Homo sapiens: one gene and its partners. The protein of the gene in region 7 interacts with the protein of the main gene of each other region in a pairwise test. Each region holds a gene or a part of one and is shown on either strand. Other genes may lie near its edges.

What was found.
Region 1: the proteins of POLR3C (region 7) and PAX6 interact in binary tests that used the Homo sapiens proteins (3 or more experiments, as listed by UniProt).
Region 2: the proteins of POLR3C (region 7) and CAMK2B interact in binary tests that used the Homo sapiens proteins (3 or more experiments, as listed by UniProt).
Region 3: the proteins of POLR3C (region 7) and POU6F2 interact in binary tests that used the Homo sapiens proteins (3 or more experiments, as listed by UniProt).
Region 4: the proteins of POLR3C (region 7) and KPNA5 interact in binary tests that used the Homo sapiens proteins (3 or more experiments, as listed by UniProt).
Region 5: the proteins of POLR3C (region 7) and KPNA3 interact in binary tests that used the Homo sapiens proteins (3 or more experiments, as listed by UniProt).
Region 6: the proteins of POLR3C (region 7) and ANKRD23 interact in binary tests that used the Homo sapiens proteins (3 or more experiments, as listed by UniProt).

What each region holds. Positions count from the first base shown.
Region 1 is NC_000011.10:31,788,254-31,792,077, reverse strand, and holds the end of PAX6 (paired box protein Pax-6), read left to right. Parts: intron 1-1,217; coding exon 1,218-1,368; intron 1,369-1,753; exon of another isoform or gene 1,754-2,058; coding exon 2,059-2,144; coding exon of another isoform or gene 2,145-2,448; 3' UTR 2,449-3,052; downstream 3,053-3,824. UniProt on the Homo sapiens protein: Transcription factor with important functions in the development of the eye, nose, central nervous system and pancreas. Required for the differentiation of pancreatic islet alpha cells.
Region 2 is NC_000007.14:44,318,400-44,322,824, forward strand, and holds part of CAMK2B (calcium/calmodulin-dependent protein kinase type II subunit beta), read right to left. Parts: intron 4,157-4,425; exon of another isoform or gene 3,209-4,156; intron 2,989-3,208; exon of another isoform or gene 2,870-2,988; intron 1-2,869. UniProt on the Homo sapiens protein: Calcium/calmodulin-dependent protein kinase that functions autonomously after Ca(2+)/calmodulin-binding and autophosphorylation, and is involved in dendritic spine and synapse formation, neuronal plasticity and regulation of sarcoplasmic reticulum Ca(2+) transport in skeletal muscle.
Region 3 is NC_000007.14:39,204,223-39,208,647, forward strand, and holds part of POU6F2 (POU domain, class 6, transcription factor 2), read left to right. Parts: intron 1-12; coding exon 13-104; intron 105-3,169; coding exon 3,170-3,398; intron 3,399-4,425. UniProt on the Homo sapiens protein: Probable transcription factor likely to be involved in early steps in the differentiation of amacrine and ganglion cells. Recognizes and binds to the DNA sequence 5'-ATGCAAAT-3'. Isoform 1 does not bind DNA.
Region 4 is NC_000006.12:116,687,505-116,691,929, forward strand, and holds part of KPNA5 (importin subunit alpha-6), read left to right. Parts: intron 1-1,815; coding exon 1,816-1,949; intron 1,950-4,425. UniProt on the Homo sapiens protein: Functions in nuclear protein import as an adapter protein for nuclear receptor KPNB1. Binds specifically and directly to substrates containing either a simple or bipartite NLS motif.
Region 5 is NC_000013.11:49,708,740-49,713,164, forward strand, and holds part of KPNA3 (importin subunit alpha-4), read right to left. Parts: intron 2,284-4,425; coding exon 2,152-2,283; intron 962-2,151; coding exon 833-961; intron 1-832. UniProt on the Homo sapiens protein: Functions in nuclear protein import as an adapter protein for nuclear receptor KPNB1. Binds specifically and directly to substrates containing either a simple or bipartite NLS motif.
Region 6 is NC_000002.12:96,840,612-96,845,637, forward strand, and holds the start of ANKRD23 (ankyrin repeat domain-containing protein 23), read right to left. Parts: upstream 3,411-5,026; 5' UTR 3,382-3,410; coding exon 3,355-3,381; intron 1,901-3,354; coding exon 1,754-1,900; intron 1,575-1,753; coding exon 1,449-1,574; intron 302-1,448; coding exon 176-301; intron 1-175. UniProt on the Homo sapiens protein: May be involved in the energy metabolism. Could be a molecular link between myofibrillar stretch-induced signaling pathways and muscle gene expression.
Region 7 is NC_000001.11:145,833,540-145,837,964, reverse strand, and holds part of POLR3C (DNA-directed RNA polymerase III subunit RPC3), read right to left. Parts: coding exon 4,383-4,425; intron 1,472-4,382; coding exon 1,391-1,471; intron 1,151-1,390; coding exon 1,099-1,150; intron 948-1,098; coding exon of another isoform or gene 945-947; exon of another isoform or gene 474-944; intron 430-473; coding exon 369-429; intron 1-368. UniProt on the Homo sapiens protein: DNA-dependent RNA polymerase catalyzes the transcription of DNA into RNA using the four ribonucleoside triphosphates as substrates.

The DNA of each region.
Region 1 (3,824 bases), on a different chromosome or scaffold from region 7:
CAGGTTTCTGTGAAGATAGCAAAATGTGTATGTGAGAAAATAATAAGACGAACAAGTAGATGCTGCAATTATATTAGGGCTGTTTCCACATACAGAGCGGTATGGGGAATCAATCTATTTCAAACACTGACTTTTAAAAATTACATAATTTGTATAATTCAAAAAGTACATGCATTCATTAAGCATAAAGAAAATCAAAATGATCAATAACTTTACTCTTCAGAGAAAACTACTCTTTGAATTTTGGAGTGGGTGAGCCCGATTGTCTATCCATTTATTCATTCTCTTGACCAAAATCATCATTTTACAAATGGTGGGTGTCTTCCTCTGGACCTTCTCTGATATGCTTCCCTCTCTGAGCATATGGATTTTGGAAATTAAACATTTCTCCAGTTTGCAGAGAAGAGAAATGATAGTATACTGTACTATCATCTGACCTGCTTGTTCCCGACACACTTCTTTTAATTCATCCCAAGTTTGCTGCCATGGCATAGTACCATGAGAGCTCATGAGGCGTTTTGTTAGGAGAAAGGTTTACCTCCTCAGTGCTGCCATTCCGAACAGTTCGAGGGTAGCAACAGTTTTCTAGTTATAAGTCAGTCTGGGCTTTTGGGTCTGTTAGGAAGTCATGGTTAATTCTCAGGATGGAGGTCGTTATATTTACTAACACTTCTGATCACTTTAACTTGGGGTCATTACAGATCTGCTTCTTCAAAGAATCTTTAATCCCATCAGTGAAAGGTTCCCAAGGTCCCTGAACCATACTTTACTGAGAGCTCCTCCCACTGCTCTCTGTCCCAAAGCTTGAGATATGGGCTCTGGGGGTCATAGGGTTCCCAAATAAATCCAGATTTGCAGGGAGAGGGGATGTGTTTTGATGAAGGTCCTCATGCTATAGGTTCTTCAAAGATGCTAGCAGAGGTTAGAGACAAAAATCCTATTAATTTATGGATAGTGGCAACCATCTAGCTGGACAGTTGTCAGAACCTAAAGTGCTTTAGAGGCTTGATACATAGGCAGCTTTCTTCTAGCTGTGGCCAGTGGAAGGACTAGCTCGAGGCCCAATCTTAGATTTATCATATGGAATTCCAGTACTTCACGTGAAGGCATCTTTAATGATCAGACTTGTTGGCAGAGTTCCTCGGGAGGAGGGAGCCTGGGGCTGTGGCTGTGTGATGTGTTCCTCAGTAACCACAGGTTTGCCTCTCTCCTCACAGCCCCCAGTCCCCAGCCAGACCTCCTCATACTCCTGCATGCTGCCCACCAGCCCTTCGGTGAATGGGCGGAGTTATGATACCTACACCCCCCCACATATGCAGACACACATGAACAGTCAGCCAATGGGCACCTCGGGCACCACTTCAACAGGTGAGCCACTGCTTTCTGCAGGCTGCACAGAGGCGATCTCTCTTCACTAGAAGTTTACCCAAACAGAATCTCCTGGTCTTATGGGAGGGCGTGTTTAACTCCTTGCTTTCCTTGTCCCTGGGGGATGGGGATTGAAAAGGGAAATTCAGTTAAGCTAATTAGTAACTTTACACCATATAGACAAAAACTAAAATTGTTTTTCCTGAATTTGGTCACAAAAGTTGTGTATGAAGACAAGGCCTGAGACTGCAAGTTTTCTGAGGACAGATTATTAGACGAAGCTCAGTAGGGGGCCCACTGAGCTGTAGGTGCGTGCTTGTTGAAATGCTTCTTGCCCTCATAGCTCCTCTAGACCTTTTGCTGGAAATAAAAAGTGACACATTGGTTTTCCAGAGACAGCTTTATTGTAAAAGTTCCAAACATGCAAACAAACAGAGGATTTTTTTTTTCTTTTCCTTTGGATTGGGGTGGGGGGTACTTGGGATCCAATAGGTATATATACATATATTGTCTAGTTTCTGAAGGTGCTACTTTTATTTGTAACAATTGAAGTGATTTTAATACAGTAAAAAATGTTAGAAAGTATTAGTTTTTTTTTTTTTTTTTTTTTTTGTAAACCTATAAATTTGTATTCCATGTCTGTTTCTCAAAGGGAATATCTACATGGCTATTTCTTTCATCCACTTCTAGGACTCATTTCCCCTGGTGTGTCAGTTCCAGTTCAAGTTCCCGGAAGTGAACCTGATATGTCTCAATACTGGCCAAGATTACAGTAAAAAAAAAAAAAAAAAAAAAAAGGAAAGGAAATATTGTGTTAATTCAGTCAGTGACTATGGGGACACAACAGTTGAGCTTTCAGGAAAGAAAGAAAAATGGCTGTTAGAGCCGCTTCAGTTCTACAATTGTGTCCTGTATTGTACCACTGGGGAAGGAATGGACTTGAAACAAGGACCTTTGTATACAGAAGGCACGATATCAGTTGGAACAAATCTTCATTTTGGTATCCAAACTTTTATTCATTTTGGTGTATTATTTGTAAATGGGCATTTGTATGTTATAATGAAAAAAAGAACAATGTAGACTGGATGGATGTTTGATCTGTGTTGGTCATGAAGTTGTTTTTTTTTTTTTTAAAAAGAAAACCATGATCAACAAGCTTTGCCACGAATTTAAGAGTTTTATCAAGATATATCGAATACTTCTACCCATCTGTTCATAGTTTATGGACTGATGTTCCAAGTTTGTATCATTCCTTTGCATATAATTAAACCTGGAACAACATGCACTAGATTTATGTCAGAAATATCTGTTGGTTTTCCAAAGGTTGTTAACAGATGAAGTTTATGTGCAAAAAAGGGTAAGATATAAATTCAAGGAAGAAAAAAAGTTGATAGCTAAAAGGTAGAGTGTGTCTTCGATATAATCCAATTTGTTTTATGTCAAAATGTAAGTATTTGTCTTCCCTAGAAATCCTCAGAATGATTTCTATAATAAAGTTAATTTCATTTATATTTGACAAGAATATAGATGTTTTATACACATTTTCATGCAATCATACGTTTCTTTTTTGGCCAGCAAAAGTTAATTGTTCTTAGATATAGTTGTATTACTGTTCACGGTCCAATCATTTTGTGCATCTAGAGTTCATTCCTAATCAATTAAAAGTGCTTGCAAGAGTTTTAAACTTAAGTGTTTTGAAGTTGTTCACAACTACATATCAAAATTAACCATTGTTGATTGTAAAAAACCATGCCAAAGCCTTTGTATTTCCTTTATTATACAGTTTTCTTTTTAACCTTATAGTGTGGTGTTACAAATTTTATTTCCATGTTAGATCAACATTCTAAACCAATGGTTACTTTCACACACACTCTGTTTTACATCCTGATGATCCTTAAAAAATAATCCTTATAGATACCATAAATCAAAAACGTGTTAGAAAAAAATTCCACTTACAGCAGGGTGTAGATCTGTGCCCATTTATACCCACAACATATATACAAAATGGTAACATTTCCCAGTTAGCCATTTAATTCTAAAGCTCAAAGTCTAGAAATAATTTAAAAATGCAACAAGCGATTAGCTAGGAATTGTTTTTTGAATTAGGACTGGCATTTTCAATCTGGGCAGATTTCCATTGTCAGCCTATTTCAACAATGATTTCACTGAAGTATATTCAAAAGTAGATTTCTTAAAGGAGACTTTCTGAAAGCTGTTGCCTTTTTCAAATAGGCCCTCTCCCTTTTCTGTCTCCCTCCCCTTTGCACAAGAGGCATCATTTCCCATTGAACCACTACAGCTGTTCCCATTTGAATCTTGCTTTCTGTGCGGTTGTGGATGGTTGGAGGGTGGAGGGGGGATGTTGCATGTCAAGGAATAATGAGCACAGACACATCAACAGACAACAACAAAGCAGACTGTGACTGGCCGGTGGGAATTAAAGGCCTTCAGTCATT
Region 2 (4,425 bases), on a different chromosome or scaffold from region 7:
TGCTCTGGGAAGCAGTCCCAGGTGCAAGGCCTGAGTGACCCAGACCATTGCTGAGTCACTGTGGAGCACCTACTGTGTGCCAGGCACTGTTCTCAGCACTTGAATTCAGGGTGTGTTGGGTGACAGAATCAAGGCTCCTCAGCTCCTTGCTGGAAACGGCACTCACTGGGATGTGCTTGACACCCAGAGGGCATTACAGCAAAAGGCATAACACCTGCAGTACTTCATTGTAAGGGCGACAGCAGCTCCTGCCCTCCAGGCTTCTCTTGCTGCTCACAAAGTGAGGAAACAAGGACTGTGGGTCCCAAATTCCACCCTGTACAAGTGTGCCATTATGCTTCCTCCCATAAAATCTTCTTAAATCTTTGCCTGGTTGTTGCCAATCTGTTCTAGAATTCAACAAAAGCTTCTGTCTGGCTTAACAAAGAATCATAACTTAAGTTATTTTTGGATAATTATGTCAATACAAAAAGAACTATGTCCACCAGGAACTGAGCCCTCAACAAGTGACCCTCTAACCCAGGAGACAAAAGCCACCCAAAAGTTTGGCAGCTAGCAACACCACCTTTCTCTAACATAAAAGGATGTTTTCATTTTAAATAAATTCAAGTTTTTCTATGAATAAAATATACATATCTGTGTAATATGCCAATATGATAATTTTTTAAAAACCAAGTTGATACATAATGCATTTTTATGTTTCTACACTAACAAAGTGACTTGCAGCTGTAAAAGATGCTTTAAAAATAATCAAATCAGATTCAATTTTTGTGGGGGAAGAGAGAGAGAATTAAATTTTTTGAAAATATATTTAAAATCTCCAGAAAGGCCACATCTCTTGCCTGGATGAGGGAGGTGGCATCACGGAACACAGGGAAATGGGAGTGGTCTTCCCAGGGACAGACATTGCACACTTATCTCCACCTGGTCTCTTCTAGTAAATTACTGTTAAATTCTAGGGTGGCTCAATATAGACTCTTTAAAGGCCAATGGAGCAAAAATGAGGGAAACATCCCTGTTAGAATTTTTAAGTAGAAGATACAAAACCTAAACATTGCATATCTCTCCCCTCTGCTCTTCGGGATTCCTAGAAAAGGGGGATGGAAAGATGGGAATAGGTCCTTCAGTTCTTTCAAGTGAGACCTGAGACATCCTTAGTCCTGTGGCCTTTGACCGCGGCAGGAGTCCACTTGCACCCACCTCCACAGGCCCAGCCCCTGCAGCTGGTCGTGCTGAGAACACAGCTTTCCTTCACAACAGTTGGGCCCTCCTAATGACCTTTCAGGCCCTGATTTCAAATATAGCATCCTATTATATATCCCATCACACTTGCTAGAGGATGGGTCCCAATTTTTGGTTTAAAAAATGTGGCCAACGCGTATGCACACATTTCTCTGCTAAGAATTGGAAGGCACTTAGCTGAAGAAAAGACTTACTGACACGGGGGGTCGTCATGAAAGTGTTGGGCAAACAGATTGCAGAATCACATATATGGTGATTCCATCTGTGTTTTGAAATCATCTATATCTGCTATATATGTAGATGTGTATATATGTACACACACACATATCCTCATACTGACATTAAAATTAAGAGGCCAGGTACCTCTGGAGAGTGAGGGAACTTGAGTGTAAAGGAGTCACATTTTACGGCACGTACTTCTGTATTACTTGGTGTGTGTGTGTATGTGTCTGTGTGTGTTTTACAAGATCATATTGCCCTGGTAATTTAATTAATAAAATAAAAATTTCTAGTCTTGCTGGTGTCATATGGAGTCAGAGTGTTGGTTGTCTTTGATGACGAAACGAAGTAACATCTTCACAAAGGGGAACCTAGAGGTAGGGGGCCCTTGGTTTGGAAAAGCACAAATACATCATGGTGAGCAGCCGGCCAAGGACAGGTGCCCAAAAGCCTCAGGTCAGAGTAGACCACAAGCTGGCCATGAGTCAGCCAGTGGAGTCACAGCATTTTTAAAGCACAGAATAGAGTAGGGTAATGAGCTTCTGAGAGGAGCAGAATGTGGATTCAAATCCTGACCCTGTGTGACCTTTCCTGGGGAATGGGGCTTCTCTGTGCCTCAGCTACCTCTCCTGTAAACTTGGGATGATTACAGTACCTACTTCACAGATCTAGCGCGTTAATATAATAAGCACCATTTAAGCGCTAGCAACTGTTACCAGAAAAGAAAAGTCCTGGTAGCAAGCATGCAGATATATTCTTAGCTCTCAGCAAAGTAGGTTATGGTATAAAAATACCATTAAATAGTAACTAAACTAGCATCACCTTAATGCACATCTTGCCAGCAATCTCAGCATGTGCGACTTCTTTTTAAACTACCCTACATTAAGGAATCAAGACCAGGAGGACTCTTGCTGGCCTCCTGGGAGCCAGGCCGGAAGGCAGAGGCCCACCCAACTCACCCCTTCCCCACCTCGGGCCAGGCACTGGGGACACAACCATGGCAGGGAGCCGGACCTCCGCCTCTCTGTGGGTAAGCTGTCCAGCACATCAGATGGGGCAAAGTGCCAGGGAGAAGACAAGCTAGGGGGAGGGGCAGGGAGCAGTGGGGAGGCAAAAGGAGAGCCAGGGCAGGGGGCATCTGGGAGAGCCTGCTGAGCAGCCCAAGGGAGTGAGCTGTGAGGGGTCAGGGGAAGAGAGGCAGCTTGGCCAAGGCCCCCGAGGCAGGGAGTGCCTGGTGTGCTCTGGGGAGAGAGAAAGCAAATACGATGATCCCTCCTCCTCCATTCCTCTCTTCCCTGGCAACCGGCTCAGAGCTTGGAGACTCAAAAATTGATTCGCTCTGAATTTCCTAAGTTTATCTATTAACTACCTAACAGGCCATTCGCTTGTTCACAGTGTGCCTCTCGGCAGAAGGCATCCGCCAGCTGACAGTGATGCCCCCGCGAGCGGTCAGGCCACACACACCCCAGGATATAGTCGCTTGCTGGCGACTGGGGTACCACTGGATGGAGTCAAGGACATATCAAGGTCAGTTTTGGGCCTATCTCAGGTTTAGTGGGAGAGATGGGAGGGGTGGGAGATGCCCTAGACTGGAGCTCAGGGGCCATTCTTGCTGCCTGGGCTTGGGCAAGTTGCCAATCTTTCCTGAACTTCGGTTCTTTGTCTGTAAAATGGGGCTGGGGAGAAGGGCCTTTCTGGACAATTGGAATCAAATAAAACCAAACATTTAAAGTAATGTACACATTAGGTGTTGTTACAACATGGCCCAGCCCTAGCTGCCATCTCCGCCAAAAAAGGAGGGGCCCATGAACCCCTGAAATGAAATCCAAAACCTCGTGGGAGATGCTTTCTTCTAGGGAGATCTCCATGTTTGAAAAGAGACAACTCCCCAAAAATGGAAGATTCACGAGGCTGAATACAAAATGTGAGACCTCTTCCTACCCAACAAACGGTCGACACTGACAACCCATCAACACTGACAACCTGCCAACCTGAGGAATGGCAGCACCCAGGGAAAGGGGCGGCCCCAACGCTGCTGTGTGAGTGGACACTGCAGGGAGAGTGGCGGCACCTGCAAAGACAGAAGACTCGAGGACCCTCCTCGGCAGCCCCACTGCCAGGGACACACCCTAAAGAAACTCTCACACCTGCGCCCCAGACGCATTCAGGGCCCGGGCCGTGACGGTGCTGGCCACAGTGTGCTGAGTGACAATGGAACACAGGAGACAACCTAGATTTCCATTGGGATGGGGGCACGCAGGACAGTGTTCACACTACAGGTCGCCACGCAGCAGCCTGCGATCAAACACATCGACGAGCACAGGTGTCAACAAGACTGTTGAGTGAAAAGTACAAGTTCCAGGTTTTTTATGTAAAGTTAAGAAAAACACCCACACAAAACAATCCTATATATTAGTTATGGATACTTATATCCATGTGTAAATGTACCCGAAAGAGCCTGGGAGGAAAAATACAAAAGCAGTAGTTGGAAGGAAATGGGTTACTTAATATTTCTTTGTAATACTTCTTATAATTTTTTTAAAAAAGGACTTAAAGCCAAAATGACAAAAGAGTAACCATTTTCAATTCTGTGTAGAAGAGATACTGTGTTCATTTTATTATTTCTGGGATTTTTCTGGATTTTTAAAGTTTATCCAATATAAAAAAAATAAAAACTGCACTGTTGGCTGGGCCATGCCGGGCTGAGGGCTTCCTTGCCTTGCTCTGTACCTGCTCCCACATGGGCCACCAGGCTAGTGTCTGTGAGCCCTGCCAGGCTGAGCAGGGAAGGGCACACACTCCCTATAGAGCTGGGCAGGGCAGGGCCCCAGAAAGCGGCCCCTCTTGGCTGGCTGACCCTGCTGCCCAGGCCTCTGGGGAAGATTCGGGAGCAGAGACAGCAGAAAAGGATGGGGCAAGGGAGGGGAAAGGCCAGTGGCCTCGTCACACATGAGCAGCTGTGGG
Region 3 (4,425 bases), on a different chromosome or scaffold from region 7:
TTTGAATTCCAGGGGCTAGAGGAAACCCAGCATTATCAGACCCAGGCACTCCTGACCAACACCAGGCCAGTCAGACCCACCCCCCATTTCCAGTTGGGCCACAGGTCAGTATCTCTCAACTGCTTTCCACTGGGCTGCATTTAGGATGGTTTAACCATATAAATCACCAAATAAATAATAATGAGTTAAATCCAATTGACTCCAACAGAGCAAAGATGGTAATAAATTTTCGTATGAAAAGCTGTATGACTACATTATTTATTAAATACCACCAAGAAAATATGTGTTTGCAAAACTCTTCTCTCTTCTTAAAGGAAAGGTTGGCTTTAATCATGTGGAAACACTTTTTTTTTTTTATCTTAAAACCCACTACAATTGTGCTGTTGGTTACCGTGCAGTTTCCTGGAAAGTAAAACTTTAATGACTGGAGTGTGAAGAAAATTAAGTTATTTCAACCTTACTATAGCCATTTTTGAAATAGAAGATGTGATTTAATATAAAAAAGTTAATGCAATTTTAATGCAAGTTCAGCTTATTGGGTTTGACAATACTGTACATCACACATAGCTCTTGCATTAATAAAGAAATACAATCATTATTTTTTAAAGTCCAATATTTGTTTTTTGCAGCCTGGTGTGGGCTATATGGAGATGTAGAACACAATTATAAAAGGCTGGGCTTTTTTTTTTTTTTTTCCTTTTTACCTCTATCATTTAGTGTGAAGCTTTCAGAGTTCATCCTGCTTTTTTGGAAAGAGAAGCTGAGACTTGGGCCTTTCTCTCCCTTTTATTGTCATTATTGCTCCTGGAAGTTAATGACTTTAAGCACATTGAGGGCTCACCCAAGTTTAGAGTGAGGGTTGGCCTTGACATTCTTATTCCACTCGCCACCAAGACTCCCTATGGCCTCAGATCCCGTAGTCCATCTCGGAGGACAGATCACTCTGTGCCTGTGGACAGAAAGCCTGGGGAAATGTCTGCTGGCTTATGGAAGCCTAGAGAGTTTTCCTGGGACTCTCAGGAACAGGATTTTTGGTGTCATACGCTTTATAATTTTATGCTTGTAACATTGTGTGTGTGTTCATGTAATTATGTGTGTCTGTGTGTGTGTATGTCTGCACACCTGCCTGTGAACATACTGGGGGTAACACACTCTAATGCCTTCAGGTTGGGTAGGCAGCCCCACAGGCCCAGGTCAGTGAGGAGTGGTGGCCCTCCGACAAACTGGAGAGTGCATGCCCTGCCTTGAGCCCACAAATCCTATTTTTAAAATGCTGCAGGCCAAAACCCCCAAATCTATGACCCATATATGGTCTGAGAGCTACTTATTTGCCTTCCCTCTTACCATAATATCACTATTGGCAGTGATGTAACACCTGGAATCTGAGGGCCAGCATATAATTTTGTATACATTCCCGAAGTATATTTATTTTGCTCATTAGAATAACTGTATTTTTTTAAAAAGGGAAGCACAGTTACTTGGTGTGAATTTAGCAAAGTGCACAAATACATTAGGAGCAAGGCCTGTGGGGTCTAAAGCAGCAGTTCTAAACTCAGCTGTGCAGAATCCTAGGGCTCTGCAGAGTCTCCCCCAAAGGGTCCTGAAAGGAACACTGCAGGGAATGGCCAAGTATGGGCTTAGCCCTCTCCACACCTCCCCTCATTCTTCAGATAAAGCAGCCCCACTTCTCTAAATCTGTTCTTTGTATTGGAGGGGATACAAGAAAGGGGTAAAACATGGGCTGTGGAGCAGCCTTCCTGGGCTTGAACTTGAACCCCCTCTCAACTAGACATGGGACTTGGGCAAGTTACTAACCTCTCTGTATCTCATTGGTAGATTAACTACAGCATTAGAATAGTGCCTGGCTATTATACATTGAGCTTAGTAGTATGCCTGTATTTAATTTCCTACCCCTCACATAAGAGTTTTGCATTGGTTCTTGTAGAAGAACAACAGATACAGGATTATTATGTTCCACATGGCTCCCACAAGGCTGCAATGAAAGTCCTGAATCAAGGACTCTAAGATCAAATGACTCTTGTGGTCATCTGGCTTGACCAGGGCAGGAATCCTTCCCATGTCATCCTGGTGAAGAGCCCACGTGCTGCACTCAAAACATGCCGAGCAGTTGCCTTTCCCTACCAGAGAAGGGCTGTTCCATCCATAGTGGATGTAAACATGTGTTTGTATAATATCATTTTAATTGGGCAAATGATGTTAGAGTAATAACAAAAGAATTATTTTCAAAGATTTTAAGTTTTATCCACATCAAATATTTTTATGTCTTACATTCTGTTTTAGATCTTGTCATTGTACATACATAATTCTACCATTTTAACAATAATCATTCAAGTTTACTTAATAGTTATCCAGCTTACTTTCTATTTTATTCTCATATTATAAACATTTTCTATTTTTCTAAAGAGGTGTCATAATGATCCATTTTAATGACTATGCAATATTTCATCTAGTTTAGTACTGTAATAAGCTATTTTCAATATTTATGTATTTTGAAACAATACATGTTTTTATGCAGTTATCTTATTTCCTTTTGAATAATATCTTCAAGCTATATCCTAGGAGTATATTCTGAGTTAAAGGGGGATAAATATTTTTGCAGCTCTTGATAATCTATTTCTAAATTGCTTTCCAAAAGGATTATGCTAGTGTACATGTCCCCCAGCCATAGATCTGCATAATGGTGTCAATACAGACTTTCCAGCATTGAGTAAATTTTCTACATTATTTTTGTTAATTTAAAAGTCAAAAGTAGTATTTCGTTGCTCTTTTTGAATCAAAAAATCCCACTGATCCCAATGAGTTCTTTCTGGAACAACAGAGAATAAATTAGCTGAGAGCTTCAAATATATGAAGATAGGATCAAATGGAAACTCAATGGAAGAGTAGCATATAAACGTAAGTTATTACTTGTAAAGATATTTGAGTTCCTCACAAGAAGTCCAAACCAAATGAAATTTTCCAAAGAAATCAATGAAATGCAACTTTGAAAATTTTTTTCTACCAATCATTTTTTTTTAATGAGATAGGGCATGTTTTTTGGTACTTCTTCGGGAACTTTCTGACCCTACTTAAGTGGAAAGAAGATGTTTTTAAAACCCATGCCTTGGTTCCACAGGAAAGTGAGCTAGCTGTATCTGTTTCCTTGCAGCCACTTCTGACGGCACAGCAGTTAGCTTCTGCTGTGGCCGGCGTGATGCCGGGAGGCCCCCCAGCCCTCAACCAGCCAATCCTCATTCCCTTCAACATGGCGGGACAGCTAGGAGGCCAGCAAGGACTGGTTCTCACACTGCCAACAGCGAATCTCACCAACATCCAAGGGCTGGTGGCAGCAGCTGCAGCCGGAGGCATTATGACTCTGCCACTGCAAAATCTACAAGGTAATCCATAATGTCCATGCGCCACGTAAGGCTCTACCCGTTGGCCAGTATTCTCTGAAGTGGGCAAAAAAAAATGTGCCTAGAATGGTGAATGTGGTTCAGAGTTGCTTCTGCCCTAAATGATATGGAAGGCTTCCACAGGAAGCAAAATTTTCAGTTGTCTGTGAATCCTGAGCCTGCACAAGCCATTGGTTTTATCAATCCTCATTTCCTAACATTGGTATCAAAACTTTTCAGGACTCCTGGAAGCATTTATGAGTCATCATTGCATGACATATCAGAAACTTAAAAGTAAAATTCCTGTGTTGTTATTTGAAGACCTGAGTTATCATCTCACCAATTCTTCAATTTAGCCATGGGTAAAGAAAAGTTAGAGGTTGCTTTTTTGTGTTTGAAGTGATTGGAACATCTCAAATACAAGATATTATTTGGAATAATTTATTAATGATTATTTTGCTCTACAAAGTATGTTTTAGTTATAGTTATTAAACAAAAATTGTGTTATTTGAGCTCATATTTTGCAATGAGAAAAATAGACTTGTATGTTGAGCCTTTATACTACAGGGACATATAACAAGTCAGACTCTAATTTTACTTAGGAAGGGTAGTTGTCTTGATATTATGAAGGTTTTGACTTTTCTTTAAAAGATTTGGTAGCATTGACTGATAGATTGATTTACAAAAGATTCTGTCAGAGGAGTAATTATTTTGGTGGAAAATGACCTGAATATAAATAGGATGCCTGCTAAAGAGAAAATGAATTTATTTTGGACTAGTCAAAGATGTTTGTTTTCTTCATATATATATAAAATTAACAATTAAAATTTTTGCAGAATGAGGGCCTGTCTGGGTAAGTTATCAGAATAGCAATTTAAAATACTTTTTTAGCTGGTCAAATGTTAGGGCTTCATATAATTTATCGGAGAATCAGTCCACAAGACTAAGAAACAGACCAAGTAAGAACTGTTCACTCTTGACCCAAACTTCTTTCCGTTCTCTATGTTCTGTTACCCCACCCATTGTTGCC
Region 4 (4,425 bases), on a different chromosome or scaffold from region 7:
TGTATACGAAAAGAGTGATTTTTACTAAATATAAATTTAAAAATAAACCTAAAATAACGGAATTCATTATTCTTGTCTCAGAAACAAGCCGATATGTAAACACAACAACCACTACTCTGATCCTCCATCCGTATTCTCTGTCTTATGTTATCTTGCCATACTACTCAGATGGCTCAGTTAAAAACCATGGAGTCATCCTCAACTCCCTTTTCTTCCTCACCAGATATCTGTTACATTCATTTGGCCTCTAATTTTTACTGAATCAATTTCAGAAATATTTCTAGAATCCAACTTGTCTTCTATGTTTTCATTGTAGTAACTTGTTTAGTTCACGCCTTCAGCATCTTTCCTATCTCTCTCTCTGAACTATGTAAAAACAACCTTTTCCTTAATTTGTTTAATTCTATTCCTTAGGATCAAGTCCAAATTTCACAGCTGCATTATAGGAACCATATGTCCTCTAACCTACCTTTATAGCTTTATGTTCTGCCATGCATCCTCATTTTGGACACACTTAGTCTCTTACTGTTCTTGGTTATGCAAGGCTTCTTCAAAAACTTTGCCTTTGCATATATTCCTTCTGCTTGAAATGCTTGATTCTCCCCATTTCTCTTTCCTGTTTTTCCTTTAAAATAGGATACCCATGAAGCTTTCAGAAGTCCCTAAGGCACAATTAGTTGCCATATCTTCACTGCTCTCTCAAGATTTAAAGCATGTATTTTAGTGTACTCCTTACAATAAAATTTGCCAATTCATTAGTCTGTCTCTTCAATATCAGGGATGGCAGACAGATGCCAGCCTCTCCTTCTCTTGTGTTTACTTCATAAGCTAATTGGTCACAACATTGTCTCTGGTTGGACATGGATATGTCCTCTGAATTTAACAGAATAACATACTGGGTACTCACTATCTACTGTTAAACTGAAGTTGGCACCCTGCTTTAGGCAGATTTTGTGTGTGTGTGATGTGTAAGTCCAGAATAGGTTATAATATCAGTATTTTAATATTCCTATAAGATAATATCAAGATATCAATACTGTTACATTGTTAAAGTTTATAATTCACTTTCTAAAAGTAAAACTAGCACATATATTCAAATATGAAATATATTTGCATATATTTTATGTATTTATAAAATAGGTATATAAATGTTAATGTTTTAAAATACATTTGCAATAAAACTACTTAAAAATAAAGTATACATGTATTTTAGTATTTCAAAAGAACTAATTATACTGGAGTACTAAAAACTGATATTGTAGTCATAATTCAAGTCCTGACCCTTGTGGCCATAGCTCTTAAGGCAATGCCTTCAGTAAGTGAAAGAAGCCAGACCCCAATAAATATTTGAGATGTGCTTACTGGAGCCTAATATCATATTTCATTAAAAATAAGATACTTCAAAGCTGGTTATTTCTTGATCTAGCCAGAAACTGTAATTTAGAAGACTTTTTTTTTAACCCAAATAATTCATGATTATTTCCTGACAGTAATTATGTTTCAGAAAGGTTAAAACACTGTGGGGGCTAGGGAGACAGGAAAGGTTGTTGCATCTTAGAATCAATAAGATAGGGTAAACTTTGTCTTTGTTTAGACCAAAATTATTTGTTTAAGATATTATTTCTAAAATATGTGGTCATTTTGCTCTAATCTTGATGTGGAATTAAGGGAATGTATTCTTTGTACATAATTTTCAGAATGGGTTTTGTTGACCTGTTAATCAGTGAGCCTGAATTTAGTTGCTAGATTAAGTGTCTCATGTTGTTTTGAGAGAGTGAGTTATCAGTGTCTGTTTTCTTTTCTCCTTCCTTTAAGATGCCATGGCTAGTCCAGGGAAAGATAACTATAGAATGAAAAGTTATAAGAATAAAGCCCTAAATCCTCAAGAGATGCGTAGACGAAGAGAAGAAGAAGGAATACAGCTTAGAAAACAAAAAAGAGAAGAACAGGTAGGTGTTTTTAGCTATTTAATTTTGTTTTTTAAAATTTTAATTATTTGCTAATTATTGGATAATTTTAAATGGAAATGTTTTAAGAAATTGAATATAGCTAAATCTATTATTTATTAGACTCCAGGCATCATAATTGCAAATTTGTGAAACAGAACTCTGTGCTACTTTAGTCACTGGGAGAAATGGATTTTCTGTTTTATTGATAAACCTGTTGTGTTAATTATATTTTTACCCTACTGCTAGGAAATTTTTCCTCTTGCATCTATTTAGATCACTTCCATTTGTCATTGTAAAATTTGCCCCTTAAAGAAACATTAATTATATATTATTTGCTGCTTTGTAGTTTTCATAATTCTTGCCCGTAAGTAAATTATTGTCATCTTCCCATGCTATTCATACTGTTCCCCCATTGTCTTATTAGCTGGATCTCTGTTTATACTTTTCATATGTGACATAAAGAATATAAAATTGTTTAAGAGAGTACATCTCAACATTTTTTATTCCAAGATGTACTTAAATGTAGAAGTATTTGTAAGTAAGTAAAATAATGTGGTTCTCACACATGTGAATTAAAACTGATGTATGAAAAGGACTAGCAGTGAAGAAAGTAGAAAAGGCCTATTCTCTTCTATTGTATTCTATTCTATTGTATTCTGTAAGTAGAGATGGGGTCCTGCTATGTTGCCCAGGCTGGTATTGAACTCCTCGCCTCAAGCAATATTCCTGCCTCTGTCTCTCAAAGTGCTAGGATTACAGGCATGTAATAGGCAAGGCCTATTTCAGAAATATGATAATGATTTCTCATCTCCCTATCTACAGCGTCTAACACAATCCTTCATACATTATAGTAGGTACTAAAAAAATTGTGTTGAATAAATGATTAGAAGGAAGATTGTTTACATATTAAAGAAGAACAGGCTGGGAGCCCTGGCTCACCCCTTTAATCCCAGCACTTTGGGAGGCTGAGGCGGGCGGATCACGAGGTCAGGAGATTGAGACCATCCTGGCTAACAAGGTGAAACCCCATCTCAAAAAAATTAGACATGCGTGGTGGCTGGCGCCTGTTGTCCCAGCTACTCAGGAGGCTGAGGCAGGAGAATGGCGTGAATTCGGGAGGCAGAGTTTGCAGTGAGCCGAGTTGATGCCACTGCACTCCAGCCTGGGCGACAGAGTAAGACTCCATCTCAAAAAAAAAAAAAAAAAGAAGAACGATATTTATTTAGATGTCAAAAAGAATATAAGCAGATTTTGTTTTCCTCAAATTTTGATTTAGGAAATGTAGAGTTATCCCTTGGTTCCAGGATCCTCTGCAGATATCAAAATTCACTGATGCTCAGGTCCTTTATGTAAAATGGCATGGTATTTGCATATTACCTGCACACATCCTCTTGTATATTTTGAGTCATCTCCAGATTACTTATAATATCTAATACAGTGTAAATGCTGTGTAGTTGAGTTGTTATACTGTGTTGTTTTAAAATATGTATTATTGTCGGGCTCAGTGGCTTATGCCTATAATCCCAGCACTTTGGGAGGCCTAGGTGGGCGGGTCACCTGAGGTCAGGAGTTTGAGACCAGCCTGACCAACATGGTGAAACCCCGTCTCTACTAAAAATAAAAAAATTAGCCGAGCATGGTGGCGCACGCCTATAATCCCAGCTACTCAGGAGGTTTAGGCAGGAGGATCGCTTGAACCCAGGAGGTGGAGGTTGCAGTGAGCCGAGATTGTGCCACTGCACTCTGTCCTGGAGACAGAGCGAGACTCCGTCTCAAAAAATAAAATAAAGTGAAATAAAATATGTATTATTTTTTATTTTCGTATTTTGTTGTTGTTGTTTATTTTTAAGAGATGGGGTCTTGCTGTGTTGCCCAGGTTGCCCTCCAATTCCTGGGCTTGTGCAGCCCTCCCACCTCAGCTTCTCAAGTAGCTGAGACCAGAGGCACGTGCTGCCATGCTTGGCTTCTTATTTTTTATTGTTATTATTATTTTTGATCTGAGGTTGGTTGAATCTGGGAATGTGGAACTCACAGATATGGAGGGCCAACTGTACCTATAAATCTCCTTTAGTGAACTCACCATGTTTCTTTCTTCTTTTTTTCTGCTTCATTTTTATCTGCTCCTGAATTAATAAGCATAGTACTGTCATTCCTAAGATTTGTTTTCTATTCCTTGTTAATCAGATATACTAAATCTGTTAATGTATCAGATGTTATCTTTCATATGCAACAGATGTGCTTTTTAAGTTTTCTTGCAAAAATTCTTAGATACCTCATAATCCAGTGTGTAAATATGTGCTTTTTTAAGTGCTATAAAATGACCATGTGTATTCCACTTACACGCTTACTGTTGGTAAAAGATCTGAGATTGAAAGTGACGTGAAGTAGTCTGTGCAGCCAAAAGCTAGCCCAGAAATTTGACTTCTCATAAATACCTTAGATCTTCCTAGTATAATGATTGGGAAATACTCAAATA
Region 5 (4,425 bases), on a different chromosome or scaffold from region 7:
TTGAAAACATGCTAGATGAAATAAGCCAGGCATGAAGACTTATTACATACTAGTAAGTACATATTACACAATTAATAATAAACTTGTCTATGAAGCTTGAAATCTTAAAAAGAGTAATTTTTTATGATCCTTGAATTTAGGCACCTCGTCTTTGGGTCCAAACTAATTTTGCTGGGAGATCAAAATTTTTATGATCGGTTTGTTTAAAAAAATACCAGCCCATTCAAATGGCAGATTTTGTCTGCACTTTCAAGCGGCTACTAATTTAATGATTGTTGCTATGCTCAGTCTACTTAAATAGAAACACAGGTAGTCTAAAAATGTTTTTTACTCTGTGATGACCAGGGCAGCACCTACCAGAAGCGATTAAAAGTTGAAAAAGGCTGGGCGCGGTGGCTCACGCCTGTAATCTCAGCACTTTGTGGGGCTGAAGCAGGCGGATCACAAGGTCAGGAGTTCGAGACCAGCCTGGCCAATATGGTGAAACCCCATCTCTACTAAAAATACAAAAATTAGCTGGGCGTGGTGGCGGGCACCTGTAGTCCCAGCTTCTCGGGAGGCTGAGGCAGGAGAATCGCTTGAACCCAGGAGGCAGAGGTTGCAGTGAGCCGAGATCGTGCCACTGCACTCCAGCCTAGGCAACAGACAGACTCTGTCTCAAAAAAAAAAAAAAAAAAGTTGAAGAAAAACATTTGCAGAGGTGATTTAAAATAATTCTCATCTTCGCTGCAGTGGCTTTTAAGAAAAACATACAAGTAGCAATAGAAACAAGGAGACAGTTAAAAATGAGACACAGAAAGAAATAGCATAATGAGGACATTATATGCCTTACCTTATTTATCTTCTCTTTTGGGTGTGATAAGAGATTTGGGAAGTGTGACAGGACATCACAATTGAGAACAACCTGGGTCTGCTCGTCGGTGCCAGTCACTATGTTGCCAACTGCTCTGAGGGCTGCTGTCTAGGGTGGGGATAAAATGTTTTCTATAAATTTATTTGCTTATAAGACTAATTCTATATTTTTCATAATCCTGAGAAAAAGTAAAAATGCAAGGCATAAATAACACTTATTTCATCCTTTCACAAAGCACCAAGCAGTCTGAGAGCTATTCTGAATTTTAAATAGTCTCTTGTGAAAAACTGAAACTTTATGAAAAAAAAAAATTGTGTGAAAATTGGTTGGAAAAAGATTCAAAAAATAAAAGGAAATTAAAATTTTAGAAGAAGTCCAGTTTCTTAAGGCTGGGCATGGTGGCTCATGCCTATAATCCCAGCATTTTGGGAGGCCGAGGCGGGGGGGATCACCTGAGGTCAGGAGTTTAAGACCAGCCTGGGCAACATAGTGAAACTCCATCTCTACTAGAAATACAAAAATTAGCTGGTGTGATGGTGCATGCCTGTAATCCCAGCTACTCTGAAGGCTGAGGCAGGAGAATCACTTGAACCTGAGAGGCAGAGGCTGCGGTGAGCAGAGATCGCGCCACCATACTCCAGCTTGGGCGACAGAACAAGACTCCATCTCAAAAATATATATAATATTTTAATAAACGCCTGGAATGGGCACACACTTCCACCTAGAAAGTCACTTTGGTAAAGCAGGATGAACAGATCTAATAAGTGCCTACCCCTAATTAGAGTGGGAGAGAGAAAGAAGAAATGCAATTAGGTTATTGCAATTATTTGGGGGAAAGATAGAGTCTTGAACTAAATCTGTTGTTCTAGATAGATAAGGAGAGACAGATTTGAACCTATATAAGAAGAATTGAAATGATTTTGTAATGGAATGGGAATTGCAAGGAGGAATCAAAATTTCTAGCTTAGGCCATGCTGTTCACTGAAGGTAGACAAGGAAGAAGAGCAGGTTTGTGGGAGATGATCGTTTCATTTCTGTCTAGTTAACCACGGAAAGCTTGAAGGAGTTCTTAGATGATATGTATAAAGGGTCAAGAACAATTGGCTATACAAGTGTGGAACTCAGCAAAGAAACTGGGTGAGATAAAGATTTGGAAATCAACAAAATCAGGCTCAGGGACTAGCAGAAGAAATGTGGAAGATAAGCACTTACAGATAGAATTAAAGCCTAGCTGTACAAGTTAACTGGTTATAGCAAACACAACTGTATACAAATAAGAAAAATTTAAAAATACTTACTTGAACTTTGACTTCCTGATGGCTCAGAAGGGGCACAAGAAAGGGCACAACTCCTGAATCAATAACCATCTGTATCTGTTCATTACCTCCATCTGTCAAGTATGACAGAGCCCAAACAGTGTCTACAAGAATCTACAGGAAACACAAAAGAAAAACCATTTTACATATTTGTTTGAATGCTTTACTTGTTCAACACACCTCAGGAGTAGTGACAGAAAAAGTAACCAAATTTCAAGTTTTAGCTTAGTGGCAAAAATATCTGCTTAGCTGATTAATCTATTAAGTAGAAAGTACCTTATCTTTCTTTCAGTGCCTACCTCAGATCATTCTTCACAGAAAATGAGACACAGAAGTCTGGGAAAACTTCTATTCCAACTTCTGCATTTATGTATCAGACAGATGAATTTAAAAACAGGCAGAAAAGTAATTCTCCCTGCCCTCACAAATTAGCTACCTAATAATCCCACAGAAAAACACTATTTACAAGAATGAGGCCAACACACCATACTGTTTCAAGTTCAGAAGAGAACAGAAAGGTCATCTATTTACTCTACTGGTTTTCCAACATATTTAGCAATACAATTTTTCAGGCTACTAAAGTAAACCAATAAAAGAAATGACTTGGCACTTTAACTTCATCTGGGGAAAAAACTGTTTGAAAATCTCCTGAAATGTGTCCCCAACTGAAGTATAAACCTGGAGTATAAACCATGCCCTAGGCCTATCCTAACTTTGCAACTACATAGAAGAAAACAGGCTTAGCGATCTGGTGATTCATTCAAGGTCAAAGATCTTGTATGTGGCATTGCTTGGTGTCGTCACAGAGGAATATAAGCACTGGTTGTAGCTTATGCAAAATCAAGATGTTTCCTATTAGGTCATCCAAATTGAAGACATCACATCTTTTTGCCCTAAAATAATAGCAGGCACCTGAATTCACATACCCTTCAAAAAAGGATATAGATGAATAAATAAAATAGAACTACACATATAACCCACACCCCTTCAGCATTACTAAGAGTCAGAGAACACTAAAAATTTCCATTATCTGTAAGAGGAGAAAAAATTAAATTCTAGCTTTTGTCTGGACCTCTTGCCTCAAGACTGTGTAAAAGAGAGGACAGAAGCTGGGCCTAAGAGCTGAGCCCACCTACCAGCCCATTTCCCACTCTGGAAGTGAGGAGGCCTCCCTGCTGGAGGTGTCTGCAGATGCTGGGTCTGAGAACAAAGTCTGGCTACTGCCCACCCTGGCAGTAACAGTAACTAGATTTACCTAGAAACAGGGGTCTCAAAGCATAACACCAATATGTGTAGGCTACAATGGAAAATAACCCTTCATACCAAGATCCAGGAAATTCTCAAAAGAGAAAAGACAGTCAACAGATGCCAATATTGAGATGACACACATATTGGAATTATCTGACAAGGACTTGATAAGATTTTAAAGTAACTATCATAAAAATGCACTGGTGAACAATTATGAACACATTTGAAACAAATTTAAAGTGGGAATTCTCAGCAAAAAAACCCGACATGATAGAAGGGGGAAAAAAAAATAAATGAACCCAAAGATACATCAATAGAAATCATCCAAACTGAATAACAGAAAAAAAAAAAGATTAAACAGAAATTAACTCTCAGGAACTTCCAGCACAATAACAATAGATCTAATATTTGTGTCTTCAGAGACCCTACAAGGAAAGGCGGAGCTGAAAAAAATATGAAGAAATATGTTCCAAATTTGGCAAAATAGATAAGTCTAGAATCAGATTAAAAAATGGGAGGTTGAGGCAAGAAGAGAAAATAGAATAAGCTCATGCATCATTGCACAGGTAAGAGACAGAAGTAAAAAAATATATCATTTAAAACTGTCAAAACAGATAGTAAGAGAGCATTAAAAAGGTGTAAGAATAAAGGTAACCACTAGAACAAAAATACAAACTTCCCCAAATACCAAAAGAAAATTGAGAAAGACAAAAGTATGCTTAGCAGAGAAAAAAAAAAACACAGGGACATTATTTCACAAAATGACAGTTCAAATCAATCTATCAACCTATGTGAATGGGCCTAACTAACCTATTAAAAAAAAAAAAAGATTTTCAAATTGGCCCTGGCTCTCAAAACAAAACCCAATTCCACGCTGTATACAAGAGACACACATAAAACAAAGAATTTGGAAAGGCTAAAAATAAAGGGATGAGCAAAAGTATGCCAAGTAAATGATAAAAAGAAAGCTGAGGTTGTAACCCTGTTAAAAGACGACCAGTAGAATTT
Region 6 (5,026 bases), on a different chromosome or scaffold from region 7:
CCACTTCCCCCACCACGCGATGGGCCGCTCCCTCTCCTCCGTCTGCAGGTGCCACTGGATTCATGCCCATAAGAGTGAAAATCCCTGCAGCCTCCTAGGCCAGGACTTGAACACACTGAAGGCAGCGCTCCTGCAGCTGCAGCTGCTGCCAGCCGACTCACCCAACCTGTGCTACCTTGTCATGGGCATTGGGGTCCCCTCCGTCTGTCAAGTACTTGTCAATCAGGTACTCCTGGTTCTCAGCAGCTGCCTTCAGGAACATCTCCAGGCCCACAGGCTCCACCTGGGCCTGGGACTGCGGCTGGTTCAGTTGAAGACAAGACCAAATCACTCCCGAAGGCCGCAGGTGCCCAAGATGTCACAGCTTCACCAGTCTGGCCCACGGGTCCCATGCAGCCCACCAAGGAACACTGCTGGCTCGTACTAATGCAGTTTCTTATTCTAATCCCACGCCAGGAGATTGAATAGACTGTGTGTGTGTGAGCGTGTGTGTTATGGATTGACTTGTATCTCCCCAAGATTCGTATGAAGTACTAACCCCAGGTACCTCAGAATGTGACCTTATTTGGAAACAGAGTCACTGAGGATGTAATTAGTTAAGATGAGGTCACACCGGCGTATGGTGGGCCCCTCACCAATATGACTTGTGTTAAAGTGGGCTCTAATCCAATGTGACTGATGTCCTTATGAAAGGGGACACGTGGGCCGGATGCGGTGGCTCATGCCTGTAATCCCAGCACTTTGGGAGGCTGAGGCGGGCAGACCACAAGGACAGGAGATTGAGACCATCCTGGCTAACACGGTGAAACCCCATCTCTACTAAAAATACAAAAAAAAATTAGCCGGGCGTGGTGGCGGGTGCCTGTGGTCCCAGCTACTCGGGAGGCTGAGGCAGGAGAATGGCATGAACCCGGGAGGCAGAGCTTGCAGTAATCCGAGATCGTGCCACTGCTCTCCAGCCTGGGCAACAGAGCGAGACTCCGTCTCAAAAAAAAAAAAAAAAAAAAAAAAAAAGTTGGGGGAGACACATGGACACAGGCATGCACACAGGCAGAACGCCCAGCAAACATGAAGGCAATAGTTGGGTGATACATCTACAAGCCAAGGAACGCCAAAGATCACCAGCATCCACCAGAAGCCGGAGAGGCATGAAGGGATTCTCCCTCACCACCCTCAGAGGGAACCAGCCTCGCCAACACCTTCCTGTTAGCCTTCCAGCCCCCAGGACAGCGAGGTGACACATGCCTGCTGTTGAGGCTGTCCAGGCTGTGGGACTTTGTTATGGCAGCCCTGGCGGACACATCCGCGGGGGCTCTGGAGTGGATTTAATGGGCTCCCCAGGCACTGGCTGTGTGGTCCTGGCCTGCAGTGCCCACTCTGCCCCAAGCCCTTCCTCTGGAACTGGAGCCCTGGTGTGTGCACTGCCCTAACCCCGACCTCCCACTCACCTTAACCAGGGGCTCAGGTTTCCTGGGGGGGACTCTGTGTCTCAGTCGCTTTTTCCGTCTTTGAACCAAGTTTTCCAAGTCAGCCAGGTTATCCAGATTAAATCTGGTACTGTTAAATCTTTCAAGCTGGGGCAGAAGACAAGACCATGCCAGCCATCAGCCGCTGGTCAAGAGATCTCTCTGCCCTGCCGACAGGAGACACCAGCTGCTCAGGCTGCCCCACCAGAGTCCCTCCAGGCCTCACTGCTCAGCCGGCCTCAGGGATTAGCCACTGCCCCCAACCCCGGCCCCCGCCCCTCTCTCACTTTCTTCTTCTTCTCTTCTTCCAATTTCAGCTTCTCCCGGGCCACAGCCTCTTGGGGGCCCCTCCTCCAGTCACTAGGCCAGGCTCCAGGGTCAGGAACTCCATGTCCAAATCCCAACACTTTCCCTTCAACTCTTTCTCCACTTACCTGTAGGAACAGGATATGAGTACTGAGTTGGGAAAATTGGAGGAACCCTTAGAAAACAGAGCTGTGGAGTAGCAGGGAGCTGTCTTATAAGGGCAGATGTCACAAGGCTGGTGCCCGGGATGGGAGCCGGCCTCAAAGCTCCTGCAGTCCAGAGTGCTGGCAAGCTCCCTCACCCTGTGGGTGCTGCAGGCTCCGCAACTGTGTCATCAGCTGACACCCAGGGGGACAACGGATCCCCGCCTACCCTGCTCCTGTCAGCAGGAACACAGCTGGGGGGACATGAGGCCACAACCTATTTATACTGCTGGGCATTTGCCCAGGTAGCCTCAGGGCAGATGACACCTTAGCTTCCCCCATGTTGTTAAGATTCCTACCAGATCATACTGACTGCCACCTGACTCCAAGCTCAGAGGGACAGAGAAGTCCCCCCGGGGTAAAATTCTAAATGCCTGGGTTCAGTTCTCGGCTCCTTTTGAAGCTACATTTAAGCTCAAACACTTAAGGCAATTGCCTAAAGGAGTTGTGAAGGTTATGAGTTATTGGGACCTGTGCCTGGGGCAAAGCCTCCGTAGCAAACACCCATGCTTCCTCCCACCGGGCCCCACCTCAGGAGTTCAGGAGCTGGGGAGCACTGAGGAATCAGCCTGTTGTGGGGAAAGAACAGGGTGGAATGATAGGGTAACAGATCCTAGGACTTTCTAGTCAGGTAGAACCATATTCCTTCTAAAGAACTCTAGCAACCTAACACCTCCCTGCCATTTGCCTCCCGCCAGAGGCTGCACCAGGCTGGGGCCAGCAGCCCACAGATGGGCTTGCTGGGCCTCACACCCTCCAGGCCCCTCGTCACTCAAACCGACATCCCTAAGAGTCACTGTTTCCCTCACTGCCCAGGGAGCGAAAGAGCACCCTTCCCTATCCCCAAGGCAGCCAGGACCTCTGGCCATTTCCAGAGCAACAACTATCATGGTGCTTAAGCTGAACTACAACCACCACAGCCACACTTGCATCTTCCAAAGTAACCTGCCATTTCCTGTTCCTCTTTCACCATCACTATCCAGGGCAAAACTCACTGAACTCAAGGATTTTCATGTCTTCTTTCCCATTCGACTTCCCTCTCTTGCTCCCTAACCCCCTCACCACCTCACATGAGAACCGAGCAGACACACCAGAAAGAACCGCACGCTCAGCCGGGTGTGGGGGTACACGCCTGGAGTCCCAGCTACTTGGGAGGCCCAGGTGGGAGGATCACTTGAGCGTGGGACTTCAAGGCCAGGCTGGGCAACACAGCAAGACTCCGTTTCAAAAAATACAGATTTTTATAAAAGAACTGCATGCTTCCCTGCACCTAAGACTTGACCCTCACACCACAGAAAGAAGCTGCCAGCCCTCTCTAGCCAGCCTCCTCCTATCAAGCCGGTCCCAGGGTGCCTCCCACCTCCGTCCCACATCCTTACCAACTGCTGAATGCTGATGAAGTCCATGGTCCCCCCTGTTCCTCACACCCCCCAGTGAGAAGAGCTGAACTGCTCAGCCCTTTATAGGAGCGCCTGGAGACGGGCAGGGGTGGACAGGGAAGGACTGGCGCAGGTGCAAGCCCCTGGGCCAGATGACTCTGGGACTCTGTCACACCAACTAAAATACCAGTCTGGGAATGCAGCCCACTGGGGAAAAGAAAAGGAGCTGTTTGGAGATGAGTTGGCTGCATCCTCGGACACCCACTCCTGCACCTCTGCCATGCCCCACACCTACTCAGGGGCCATTTAACCAACACACTGCTAGCCCAGATTCGGGTGAAACGTGTTCCCCTCTCCTAAGTTTAGATGCCACTCCTGAAGAAAGCCCAGCCTGGGCCTCCATGTTGTAGGGCCGGCTGCCTGTGAACCTGAAAGCCCAGCCTAGGTGGCTGAGCAAGGAGGCTGGAAGCCTGAGGGGGTGGTCGGGAGGGGCAGGAGCGGCCAGCCTACAGCCTCAGCCCTCATGGTGGCCACGTGAGGAAACCGTGATCTCCCAACTTGCAGTTTCAAGGCTGCCCTTCCCTTCCCTGTGCTGTGGGTTTCTCGCCCCCGGGCTCCCCCGCTCCTCCCTCAGTGCTCTGAGAGCACATGGCAGCTGCCCCAGCCCCGAAGCCAAGCCTGGCGCCTGTCCTCGGGCCTCTGGAAGTCCTCCCCGCCCCTCTACAAGCCCCTACCAGACGCTCTCCAGGGACGGAGTGTGCCCCTCCAGCCACAGGAAAGGGGAGACTGATCCGCGTCAGGTCCCGGGATGGAATAGTAACCATGAAATCCAGCCGCAGAGCAATGTGTCTCAAGCCATCAGTCACCCTTCCTAATTCTCAGGAAGCCAGGCATGCCCTTCACCCAGCTGAACCTTGAACTCCGCCTTGGCCTTTGCAAGGAAATCAGCCAGTAAATAAGACCCCAAAATCGGAGCAACCTGAGAAGACATGACCAGGGTACAAGGAGGGAGAACTGTGGCCAAGGATGGCCACAGGCCCCAGATGGCTCCCCAGCTCCCAAAGAACTGGCCTCTTGGAAGGGCTTCCACATTTTCAGAGAACTCAGGAAAAGGCAGAGCTTTCTTAGAAAACTCAGTTCTTGGCCCGGCAACAGTGAGACTCCGTCTAAAAAAAAAAAAAAAAAAAAGTTTTCTTTTTTTTTTTAATTTTTTGAGACGGAATCTCGCTCTGTGGCCTGGGCTAGAGTGCAGTGGCGCGATCTCAGCTCACTGCAACCTCCACCTCCCGGGTTCAAGCAATTCTCCTGCCTCAGCCTCCCGAGTAGCTGGGATTACAGGCACCTGCCACTATGCCCAGCTAATTTTTTATATTTTTAGTAGAGACGGTGTTTCACCATGTTGGCCAGGCTGGTCCTGAACTCCTGACCTTGTGATTCACCCGCCTCAGCCTCCCAGAGTGCTGGGATTACAGGCTTGTGCTATCGCGCCCAGCTGAAAACTTAGTTCTTAGGCTAAATTTAGGGTGCTTTTTTCAGACAAAGGTGTTCCTTGCTTTTTTTTTTTTTTTTCTTTTTGAGATGGAGTTTCACTCTTGGTGCCCAGGCTGGAGTGCAATGGCGCGATCTTGGCTCACCGCAACCTCCACCTCCCCGGTTCAAGTGATTCTCCTGC
Region 7 (4,425 bases):
GAAGCCAGTACCAGACAGGAACAGTGATCAGAAAATTATTCTACAGCTCCATAGGTTGGTGATGGTAAGGCATCACCAACTGCTGTTAATCATAAGGCAGTCACCAACTGCTGACTCATTTGAGTGCCACAGTTCCTACATTTGTAAGCAAAGGCTTTAGGGAGGCTGGTTAATTTGCATCGGTAGGAATTAAACAGTAGGTTATTTTAAGGTAAAGAGCAGTATTACATGAGATCCATAGGAGTCCAGTGAAAAAATGGGGAAAAGTATGCCAAGGTGTGGTTATATTGGTGGCTTACATAATGATCAAATTACTTCACTGGGGATAGGAAGTATGTGATCCCAAACCCAACCAGTGTCCCCCTTACCTCTCCTGTACGACGGACTCCAGAGTGGCTGTGGCTAGGGATGCTAATGCCTTATGGAGGTCTTTATGTAGAGAATTAAGGTCACTCAGTAATGTTTTGGCCTAGTTATTGTGATCTGAGTTTTATTCCTAAGTTTCTAATTTATAATTAAATTTTAAATGCTATTTTGTTTTTCATGTTATAATTTATGGTTTCAGTCATGGTACATAAATATTCCAAAACTTTAATACAAGTGTTTAAGTAAGGGTTTTGCTTAACTAAAATTTGGTTGATTAAAAGTCCTTTTTCCTTTTCTTTTTTGAGACAGGGTCACCCAGGTTGGAGTACAGTGGCATGATCTCAGCTTACTGCAACGTCTGTCTCCTGGGCTCTAGCGATCCTCCCACCTCAGCCTCCTGAGGAGCTGGACTACAAGCATGCATCGTTACAGCTGGCTAGTTTTTGTATTTTTGGTAGAGATGGGGTTTTGCCATGTTGCTTAGCTGATCTTGAACTCCTGGGTTCATGCAATTCACCTGCCTCAGCCTCCCAAAGTCCACCATGCCTGGCCTCTTTTTACTTCATCATCAATGCAGTTCACTGAAAATTCATAGAAAAATTTATTTAACAATTACTTCAATTTTCTAATTTATTTAGTATAATAAACATTACCAAATCTTTCTTTCCTAAGGCACCATTCTGATTTATAGGTCAGGCTGCCTGACTCTAAGGAAATAACTGGTAAGGATACTGATGACATACATTCCTCCACCACTGTCGCCAGACTTTCCAACAAACTCTAGCTATTAAGAAAAAGAGAGAGTGTTAACTGAACGGAAAGTCCAGTGATTCTGTTTCCAATGGAACAAATCTGACCAAAAGTCTGCAGCAGGTAGCCCTCCTATCAAATGATGTGGAGAAATTGTCTGGGCTGGCTAGGTAGAGAATAACTCTGCAGGAGGATGACACTAGGTATCAGTGCAGAAATAAATTATCAACAGTACAGGCTAAAGAAAAAAGAAAAAAAGCAAAAACAGACTTACTGGATCATCTGCCAGCAGAGTGAGATACTGATCAAGAACTTGCTTAGAGATGTTATAGCCAACAGGTAGGGATCTGAAGATCTATGGAGCAAAGGACACTTAAAATGGGTTTGGGAACTTAGAACTCCTGACCTTACTGAAATAAAGATGTTTTAGGCCGGGCACAGTGGCTAAGGCCTGTAATCCGAACACTTTGGGAGGCTGAGGCAGGTGGATCACTTTGGGTCAAGAGTTGGAGACCAGCCTGACCAATATGGTGAAACCCCGTCTCTAGTAAAAATACAGAATTAGCTGGACGTGGTGGCGCATGCCTGTAATCCCAGCTATTTGGGAGGCTGAGGCAGGAGAACTGCTTGAACCTGGGAGGCAGAGGTTGCAGTGAGCCGAGATTGCGCCAATGGACTCCAGCCTGGGCTACAAGGGCGAAACTCCGTCTCAAAAAAAAAAAAAAAAAAGTTTTAATTTTAGTTACCACAAAACTGTCCAAAAATATTCACAGCAGGATTGTTTGTAAGAGTAAAAAACTAGAAACACCCAAATGACCAGTACCGAGTACACTAAAATAAAATATAGCACGGCCATTAAGTGGAATATGATACAGTCATTATGAAGAGTGAGACAAATCTACAGAAACTAACATGAAAGGAAGTTTTACATACACTGTCATATAAAAAATCAAGTTATAGAACAGTATGACTAGGTTGGGTGTGGTGGATCACGACTTTGTAATGCCAGCACTTTGAGAGGCTGAGGTGGGAGGATCACTTGATGTCAGGAGTTCGAGACCAGCCTGGCCAACACAGTGAAACCCTGTCTCTACTAAAAATACAAAAATTAGCCTGGCGTGGTGGCATGTGCCTGTGATCTCAGCTACTCGGAAGGATGAGCAGGAGAATGCCTTGAACCCAGGAGGCGGAGGTTGCAGTGAGCTGAGATTGCGCTACTGCACTCCAGCCTGGGTGAAAGAGTACAAGACTCTGTCACAAAAAAACAAAAACAAACAAACAAAACCCAACCAAAAAGCCATATGAATAGTCCCATTTTGGGGTTAAAAAATACATATACCCACATATATGTTAGAGTATGCAAGGTCTGAATAAAGATATATACCAAACTTTTTTTTTTTTTTTGAGACAGAGTCTCACTCTGTTTCCCAGGCTAGAGTGCAGTGGTGCGATCTCAGCTCACTGCAACCTCCCATTCCCGGGTTCAAGCGATTCTCCTGCCTCAGCCTCCCAAGTAGCTGGGATTACAGGCGCCCATCACCATGCCTGGCTAATTTCTGTAATTTTAGTAGAGATGAGGTTTCACCATGTTGGACTATGCTGGTCTTGAACTCCTCAGGTGATCTGCCTGCCTCGGCCACCCAAAGTACTGGGATTACGGGTGTGAGCTGCTGCGTCCGGCCTTTTTTTTTTTTTTTTTTTTTTGAAATAGGGTTTTGCTCTGTTGTTTAAGCTGGAGTGCAGTGGCATGATCATAGTTGACTGCAACCTCAACTCTTGGGCTCAAGCAATCCTCCTGCCTCAGCCTCTCGAATAGCTGTGACTACAGGCATATGGCACCACACCCAACTAATTTTTTAAAAAAATTTTTTGTAGAGACGGGGGTCTTGTCATGTTGCCCAGGTTGGTCTTCAACTCCTGGCCTCAAGGGATCCTTCTGCCTCAACCTCCCAAAGTTCTAGGATTACAAGTGTGAGTCACTGCACCTGGCCATAGAACTTTAAAATAAACAATATAAAAATATAGGAATATTTAAACACAGTCATGCACCATATAACATTTTAGTCAACAACGGACCGTGTGCAGCTGTGGTCCCATATTATACTGGAGCTGAAAAATTCCTACTGCTTTGTGATGTCATAGCTGTTGTAACATCATAGCACAATGCCGTTGTGAAACACATTACTCACATGTGTGGTGAGGCTGGAGTGCAGTGGTATGATCTTGGCTCACTGCAACCTCTGCCTCCTGGGTTCAAGCAATTCTCCTGCCTCAGCCTCCCGAGTAGCTGGGACCACAGGCGCATGCCACCATGCCCGGCTAATTTTTTTTTTTTTTTTTGTATTTTAGTAGATGGGTTTCACCATGTTGCCCAGGCTGGTCTCAAACGCCTGAGCTCAGGCAACCCACCAGCCTGGGCCTCCCAAAGTGCTAGGATTACAGGCGTGAGCCACCCCGCTCAGCCTGTTACTGGTTTTTAATAAATACAGTGTAGCCTGAGCGTGTAGACCATCACATTCACATTAATCTGCCATTCATTCACTAACTCCCACAGGGCAACTTTTAGTCCTGAAAGCTCCATTCATGTTAAGTGCACTAAACAGGTGTGGTTTTTAATTTTTCATACCATATTTTTACTGTACCTTTTCTGTGATTAGATGTTTAGATACACAGATGCTACTGCGTTACAACTGCCTACAGTATTCAGTACAGTAACATGCTGTACAGGTTTACAGCCTAGAAGCCATAGGCTATCCCGTTCAGTCTAGGTGTGCTGTAGGGCTACACCATCTAGGTTTGTGTTAAGTACACCCTATGATGTTCACACAATGATGAAATCACCTAACGACACATTTCTCAGAATGTATCCCTGCTGTTAAGTGATGCATGACTGTATTACTATGAAAGTAATATAAATAACACATATTGGATATATTAAATATCGATATTTTAAGTACAGGGGGTCAAATAATGTCCTGAATGCCAAGGCTCTCAGAGTCCAAATTGTGGATTCTTAAAATAATTAGGAATAGGCTGTACTTGACGAATAGATACTTTGACTAAGTGAATAGTGTAGATTTTTAAAAGCTGGATCCTAAGAGACCAAACATTTCAGTGCTCATCACTTGAAGATAATCCCTGCTCCACATCAAATGCCCTTCTCTTTCAAGGCTCAGACCTCAACCCAAACTCAGGATCTGTGTATAATAAACGTTGATAACACCCAAGAATCTGTCAGAAAGTTAGTGCAAGAACATGAAACTCACCTCATTGGAAGACAATGGCTGGGTGAAGGGAGCACTAGAGGAA